Linked DNA regions of Homo sapiens: all the other regions are linked to region 1. The links come from fine-mapping of genetic effects on gene expression. A gene starts in region 1. Each other region holds a variant in brackets. All regions are shown on one strand. Distances are from middle to middle. Region 1 holds the start of TSPAN12 (tetraspanin 12). Region 2 overlaps LOC124901733 (a long non-coding RNA gene). Region 3 has its middle 26 kb from the start of ING3.

The links. PIP is the estimated chance that this variant, and not a neighbour inherited with it, causes the effect. A credible set is the group of variants that fine-mapping cannot tell apart.
Region 2: its variant is the best candidate, but not a certain one, in a credible set for the expression of TSPAN12 in nasal epithelium (TOPMed, PIP 0.67).
Region 3: its variant is the best candidate, but not a certain one, in a credible set for the expression of TSPAN12 in coronary artery (GTEx, PIP 0.80).

The regions. Positions count from the first base shown.
Region 1 is chr7:120,856,915-120,859,596 of GRCh38, forward strand. TSPAN12 (tetraspanin 12) reads right to left here and starts at 1,230. Exons shown (of 8, transcript NM_012338.4): 1 at 906-1,230. LOC124901733 (a long non-coding RNA gene) reads left to right here. Exons shown (of 2, transcript XR_007060491.1): 1 at 1-294. RefSeq lists silencers at 173-392, 585-884.
Region 2 is chr7:120,880,806-120,883,487 of GRCh38, forward strand. The region is part of intron 1 of LOC124901733 (a long non-coding RNA gene); the gene reads left to right. Among named protein-coding and RNA genes, the nearest start is that of TSPAN12, 24 kb to the left of the region's middle. The variant G/A (reference allele first, on the strand shown) is at 1,560.
Region 3 is chr7:120,923,913-120,926,594 of GRCh38, forward strand. No RefSeq gene overlaps it. Among named protein-coding and RNA genes, the nearest start is that of ING3, 26 kb to the right of the region's middle. The variant C/T (reference allele first, on the strand shown) is at 1,298.

The sequences.
Region 1 (2,682 bases):
CTCAGCAGGGTCCAGAGGGTCCCGAGGCCCAGTGCATTCGAGACATCGCCTCATCAAAAATCATTTGTTAAAATCATAATGGTAACTAAACTCCCAAAAGTTCCAAACCGGCTTCAGATAACACCTGCTGGGAAAAGAAAAGAGCAACTATCCGGATGAATGAAGTCGCACAGTAAACTCGCGTTCTCAGGGGACACGCGGCGGAGCCCTGTGCATTCTGATGAGACGCTCTTGAAAACCTCCCTCACTCCACGCCCCTCCTCGAGGACAGCTGTGCTCGGCACTGTCCTGAAGGTGAGAAACCACACTGCCCCCTACCCCGGACACGTCAGAGGCGCCACCGGCAAGCCCGAGAGAATGAGCGCCCTTCTAGTTAGGACAGTTCCTGGGCACTCCAACTCCGCACCCCTCTACCCCGTCCCGCAGCTCGGGTGTGAATGCAAGGGACTGGGGCGGCGGGGCGGGGGCGGGGGCGGGGGCGAGGGGGCAGCGCGGAGTTGAGATTCCGCCCGGCTACTAGGGTTTCTCTGGGAGAACGTGAGAAATGATGTTTTCGGCCCCAGAATGATGGATTAGCCTGGGACAGTGGGCGGGGGGCGGGGGGCGCCGGGGAATTAGGGCCGATGCAGCTGTGCAGACGCCGGGTTAGTCATTCAAACCCCGCTTCCCCCGCCCGGGACGCTCCCGCGACCCCTCGCTCAAAGCCGCCCGCGGAGCACAAAGCGAGCGCGGCCACCGACCCAGCCATCGCGTCCGCGCGCCCCCGGCAGGGCGCGAGGGGAAGCGCCGGCGGCAGGGAGCCCCAGAGCCAGCCCTTAAGTAGTTTAGCACACAGCGCGGAGGGCAGCCGCCGGCGGGCTGGCGGGACAGCGGGCAGGAAAGGCGACAGACGCGTGGCCACTTACCGTCGGCGCTGGGCCCGGTGCCCCACGCCCGCCTGGGGATAGTCGGGGACGCACGGCGGGGGCTCATCGGGGCAGGGAACTTCTTCGCGGAGAGCCGGAGGGCTGCATTGGCTTCAGCTGGAGACGCTTCTTTCTCTTCCTCTCCCCCCGCCGCCGCCGTCGCCGCCTCCTGGGAAAAAGAAAAAAAAAAAAAAAAGTCCTGGGCAGCAGTTGCTGGAAAGTCTCTGCTAAGCCACCTCCCAGCGCCGCTGTCCCTCCCAAGTCCTCTCCGAGTCCGGACGAGGCAGCGGCGGCAGCCAGGGCCAGCTGCACAAACTCTCAGCGCATGCTCGAGCCGCTGGCTGCCGGGGTTGGGTCCTAGTGGGTGTTTCTTGTCCCTCTCACCCAGCGAGAGTCCCCAAAGGGACGCTTCACCTCTGCAGGATAGGGTCCAGAAGATAATGCCTAGGAACTTGGGAGAAGTCCGTGCAGTAAATCCCTTTAAAATGGTGGCGTCGAAGGAATGGAGGCTGGGTTATAAGCATAGAGAAGCAGGCTTTTATTATATGATAATATTTGTGTTTGAGAAGGGGGGTGAAGGGGTGGCCCAACCCAATTCCTGCAATGAGAAACTAGTTTTCACAACCTTTATGGAGCCACCTCCTGTGATTTGTTATTAACATGGTGCCCTATGATCCTTCTTATTGCTTTGTTGCCCTCCCGGATTTTTTTTTTTTTAAGTTCTTTCCCACTTTCATAGTGCACTAATAGCATTTACGGAAACATCAGAGTAATCATGTGCAGTCTGACATGCAGAAGAGGAGGAAAGAACATTTTTAACTCTTAGAAGTAACTCAAGCTTTCCAAAATTTCTCACGATAAGATTGTTTTGAGTTAACTGGGTGATTTATTTTGAAATGTGTACATAGTAGTGGATCTTTGGAAAATCTAATTTTTTTAAACTAGAAATTCATGAAGTATTACACAGCAGGAGACCATCCTTCCAAAAGAATCTTCCCTTTTAGAAGACAGAAGTTTCACACTAAATAAAATGCCACTGGATCATATCCTCCACATAAAATGTGGATGTGTTGTGCTATGCCTCACAGTACTGCTCATTTCTAGGATTACTTTTGTGGGCACTGCATGGCAAATAAAACTTCACCAGCAAATATGAATTACCTGGAATACGAGCAACATCTTTGACCTAATAACTGGAGTCCTTGGATTTCCTTGCAGAAAAAAAAAAAAAAAAAAAAATGGAATCCTATGTCCATGACTGCCTGTCTAGAGTTAGTTGCTGCATGACTGGAGTGACAATAAGACATGCAGTCTCATATGGAAAAGTCAAGACCAAAAGACAACATGGTTGTCCTGGGTTAGGCTAGGAAAATTATTGGTAAGCAAGTCACTAAGCAGTATGTAAGACAGCAACCCAAAAGAGTATAAAGAAGTATAGCCATACACAAAAAAAACACCAAGAAACATGTCCAGTTATCCATCAGATGACTCCAACTCTGATAATGAAGCAGCTTCTAGAATACTGGGGAAGAGCAAAGAAACCCACTTTTATCCTCTGCCAGTTTCTTCTCAAATTAGGGTGCATGCCTATTTTAAGCAAAGGACTGCTGAAACAACCAGCCATCCAAATGCTGTTGGTGCCATACATTCCCCGGAGAGGTATAAACATCCCCGCATTGAAAGGAGTCCATGACTGCTATTAAAACTGAGAAAAAGAGTGCCAACAATTCCCATGTGTCAAAGCAGAGATCCTCTTCTACTCCTAGAAGGTAGTTAA
Region 2 (2,682 bases), 24 kb after region 1:
TATGAAAAAAGGAAACACTTGAAAATATGGCTAGTGAAAGAAGGAGATCCTAAGGAATTAAACAGACAGCCCAAAATCTATATAGACAATTGTGTCACTTAGGGGTGTAGGGTATGCAATCTCTGGGAGATTGCATGAGGCCAGAACTCCAACTCTATGACTTAGAGTTCTGGCAGGGTATTATTTACATTATGTAGACCATTGGCTAACTTTGCAGAAGGGTCTTTGGAGCCTCCATTTGGCTGCCAGCCATGATTCACTGCAGCAGCATGTTGTCAAGGCAGCTAGTCTTTCATCCACACACCCATGCTGACCCTTCTGCAGAAACTAACCCTTTCTCACCTAACAACACAAACAACCTTATTTTCACACTACCATTAAGAATCACATCTATTATTTATAGGTCATTATGTAACAATTCTTTTCATATAATACTTCTAAGCTTCACCACAACCCTATAGTATAAGTATTATCATCCCCAATTAGAAAAGTAAGAGGTTACATATCTTGCCCAAGTTCTCAGATCTAGTACAAGGTTGAATTGGGATTCAAACCAAAGTCTCTCTGGTTCCCCAACCCCCTTGTCACTGATAACTAGTGATCTATTCAGTCATCACAATAAATTCTGGAGAAGGGACAAAAGCCATTTTGAAGTGCAAACTCATGAAAAAATCATTAAGTAAATTACATTATTAAAGTTACAATCCTGTCTTCATTATTAGTAGAACTGACTTGCTTATCATAAGAACCTATGATTATCACTTAAAGTGTGTGCTTTAATCTTTTTTTTTTTTTTTTTTTTTTTGAGACGGAGTCTCCCTCTGTAGCCGAGGCTGGAGTGCAGTGGCGCGATCTTGGCTCACTGCAAGCTCCGCTTTCTGGGTTCACGCCATTCTCCTGCCTCAGCCTCCCGAGTAGCTGGGACTACAGGCGCCTGCCACTGCGCCCAGCTAATTTTTTGTATTTTTAGTAGAGACGGGGTTTCACTGTGGTCTTGATCTCCTGACCTCGTGATCCACCCGCCTCGGCCTCCCGAAGTGCTGGGATTTGTGTGCTTTAATCTTGATGATATGTTGTATTTTTAAATATTCAGTTATTAAAAAGATAATGTATTTTAATGAGGCAATAAACAAGTTATATTAATTTTTTTGTTTTTGAGACAGAGTTTCGCTCTTGTTGCCCAGGCTAGAGTGCAGTGGCGCGATCTCACTCACCGCAACCTCCGCCTCCGGGATTCAAGCGATTCTCCTTTCTCAATCTCCCAAATAGCTGGGATTACAGGCATGTGCCACCACGCTCGGCTAATTTTGCATTTTTAGTAGAGACAGGGTTTCTCCATGTTGGTCAGGCTTGTCTTGAACTCCCAACTTCAGAGGATCCACCAGCCTCAGCCTCCCAAAGTGCTGGGGTTATAGGTGTGAGCCACCGCACCCGGCCACAAATTATATTAATTCTAAAATGGAAGGAATTGCTAATAATGCTATTAGAATGTGGTATGTTAAAGGTCAGTTGTCTGCCTCCCCAGTCATCCTGGGTTAGCATTATCTTGATGAATTCCC[G/A]TGGTCTGATATAGAAACCTACCTCAATTTTTTAACATCAGAAACTTGATTTGTCTGTATGCTAAAAGTGATTCCTATTAAATGAGAGTTTTGTTTCTACCAGACTAATTTTTATGTCGTAAAAAATTATTAACAGATTATGTTAGTTTCTTTATTCAATTTATTCATGTCATAATTTAAAATGATTACTTCTTTTTATGGTTTTCAGTTCATTTTAAAAGCCTTATTACTCCATTTACAAAGCTAGCAAATTTTCAATCTCTTTAAAGGAAGCCCTTAGTAACTATCTAGAACCAGTTATAAACCTTGTTAATTAAACTCATTTTAACATTTTAAACTACATTAATACCTTTATATACTCAATTTCTTTCTACACATACTTACATTTATCTAATAAACTTTCTCAAGTATTAAGTAATACTTATAAAATTAATAAATAAAACTTTTAAATGGTTTCTTTTAATTTTCCTTAAATAATCAAATATCACATTTATACTTAATTGTATTCAGTCTACATACACATTTCTAAATCAACTCTCAATTAGACATTTTAAAATGGTGTTACAAGCTTGATCTGTTATTCTAACAAAGTCTTTAATCATTATGGATGCTTATTATAGCAAATACATGCATGTTAATTAATGTAAAAATAGTAATATCACATTGTGGTTGCCTTAAACATATCTACTATTAATTCTAAGTCTCCCCAGATATAAAAAATGCTTTTCCACAAAGGAAACATACCATCTCACAACATTTTGGGGGTTATATCCCTACATAATTTTTGGAGCTGCCTTCTCAGCTTTTCAATGATCAGAGGATAGTTGAGCAATGAGACTGGATCCTGTCTCTGATATGGATGGAACGTATCAGCTCCTATAAATTATAACACACTGTTAATAGGACTTCAAAAATGAAAGAGAAACATTTCATGTGGCTCATATCCATTAAAAATGAGTTACATTATTATCTAATTTTCAAGTCAGGTTAGAATCTATAACTTCCACCTAGGTGGCCATATCTCTTAATTGGATTTTGTTTTCCTTAGTTCTTAAGATAAGTAGATGTATTCACACCTAGGGGTAAAGACATTTGAGTGTAAGGCAATCCTACCTTTTCTCAC
Region 3 (2,682 bases), 67 kb after region 1:
TGTAGTTCCAGCAACTAGGGAGGCTGAGGCCAGAGGATCACCTGAGCCCAGGAGATTGTGGCTGCAGTGAGCCATGATCACGCCACTGCACTCCAGCTTGGGTGACAGGGTGAGACCCTGTCTCACTGACTCAAAAAAAAAAAAAAGGAAAGAAGAAAACTAAGGTGAAATTAAAGAAAAAGCCATTTTTAAACTGACAGTACTGTACTGAGGTATATAATTGTGTAAATTAATACTACACACATTGGCTTATTGATGGACGTTGATAAGAGTTTTTTTACTGAACTAGTATTTCTTCAGGTCATTTCACTGAGTCAGTAGCAATTTACATATTTTGGTTGTAACAGCCAGACTTCTTCAGTTCATTTTACAGCAAACAGGCTAAGATACAATCTAATATATTTGAAAACATAAGATGTGTGACTTCACAGTTACATTAATTGCTTATAGTACTACAAAACTTTGGTGACTCACAAATAAGAATTCTGATCAATATAATTTTGCTGAATCTCCATATTGAAAAAAGTATACATTATGCATTTATAATTCTACATATTTCACCAGCAAGTATATTGCTAATAAGGGAGACTATTTTTGACAAGGCATTGATGAGAACCGAATCTTTTGCTTTTTTGTTTTTTGAGGCAGGGTCTCACTCCTGTCACTCAGGCTGGAGTGCAGTGGCACGATCCACGGATCGCTGCAGCCTCGACTTCCTGGGCTCAGGTGATCCTCCCACCTCAGCCTCCCAAGTAGTTGGGACCACAGATGCATGTCACCACATCTGGCGAATTTTTCTGTAATTTTAGTAGAAACCGGGTTTTGCCATATTGCCCAAGCTGGTCCTGAACTCCTGGGCTCAAGTGATCTGCTTACCTCTACCTCCCAAATTGCTGGGATTACAGGTGTGAGCCACCACAACCAGCCTGCTCATAATTTTATACATCACATAATTGTAAGAAGTTTCCACATACTTCTTGTTTCATCTATTTAAAATGTGTCCCTCAAACCTCCCCTGCCCCTGACCCCTCTGTTTGATCCATCTACTTCCAGTGCTCATTGCTATAGCACACATCTATAGGATGGTATGGGTATGACCCTGCACCTTTGTGTCAGAACAGTGTGAGTCAGTACAGCAGGCACGAAAGTATTCCTAGAAGCCAGCCCTACAAACTACATAAATATATCTTCCTAGATTCACATAAAAGGTATGTCTTACTCGAATTCCCATCAGATCCTCAACTTGCTCAGAACTCCAAAGCCACCCAACCAAAGGATAAGTGTAACAGAGAGAATG[C/T]TGAAGTGGAAAGAAAGAGGTTTTAACCAAGTGAAAACATTTCATTGCAAATTTTACAAAAATCATAAAACCACATGTGGTGGTGGGTTGAAAGGTGGCCCCCCAAAAGATATGCCTATGTCCTGGCCCCCAGTCCCATAAATGTGACCTTATTTGGGTAGAGTCTTTGCAGATGCAATTTAGTTAAGGATCTTAAGAGGAAACCATTCTGAATTGCCGAGGTGGACCCTGAGTCCACTGACAAGCATCCTTTTAAGAAAAGAGAAGGCAGGCGTCTTTATGAGAGAAGATAAACATCCTTATGAGAGAGGACATAGACTCAGAGAAGGCCATCTGAAGACGAAGTGACACAGACATAAGGAATGCCTACCGCCACCAGAAGCCAGAAGAGGCAAGGCAGTGTTCTCCCCTAGAGCCTCCAGGGAGAGTGCAGCTCTGTGACTTCTTGATCTCGGACCTCTGGCCCCCTGAACTGGGAAGAAATTTCTGTTGTTTTAAATCATCATGTTTCTGGTAATTTATTACAGCAACCCTAGGACTAACACTCCATATCAACACTAGAGTCCTTTCCAGAACCTTATTAAGAGATTCAAGTCAATGTGGGGCTCTGACGCTGAAGCTTCCTTAGCTCTACAGTAGATTTCCTCTGCCTTGAATAAAAGGACAGCCAAACTTTTCTTGTCTAATGTTATATTTGAAATAATTTCACATTTATTCTTCACGCAGATTCTCCAATTATTGATATTTGATAACATTTTGATATATATGTAGATAATAAAAAACTGTTTAGAAAAAAATTGTTCATAAAAACAAATTTCTGTAATTGTTCAAAAAAAAATGTGTAGTTAACAGCCATGATTCTCTCTGCTCCAAATACTTCTGCGCATAATCCCTAAGAAAAAAATCATTCTCTTACATGTCTACAGTTTGATACAAGAATCAAGAAATTAACAATGATTCAGTAATATTATCTAATTTAAAGACTATATTTTTTTCTCAATTGTTCTAATAATGTTTTTAAAGAAAAATCTGGTCAACATTGTAATCAAAGATCATATGTCATGTCCTTTGGTCTCCTTTAGTTTGAAATTATTCTCTTTTTTTTTTTGGCTTACAATTTTGAAGACTATAGGTCAATTATTTTGTAGAATATCCCCTAATTTGGGTTTGTCTGATATTCCCCTATGATTAGATTCAGGTTACACATTTTTCTATAGATTGTTACAGAATACTACATTTCTGTAGAATGCTACAGTAGTAATGTTGGGTTCTTCCAGAGCATCATATTAGGGGCACATGATATTGGTTTGCCTTATTTTTGTTGATGTTAAACATTAATCACTTGGGTTTCAGTGTTAGACAAGTACTTGTAAAACTGCTATGTT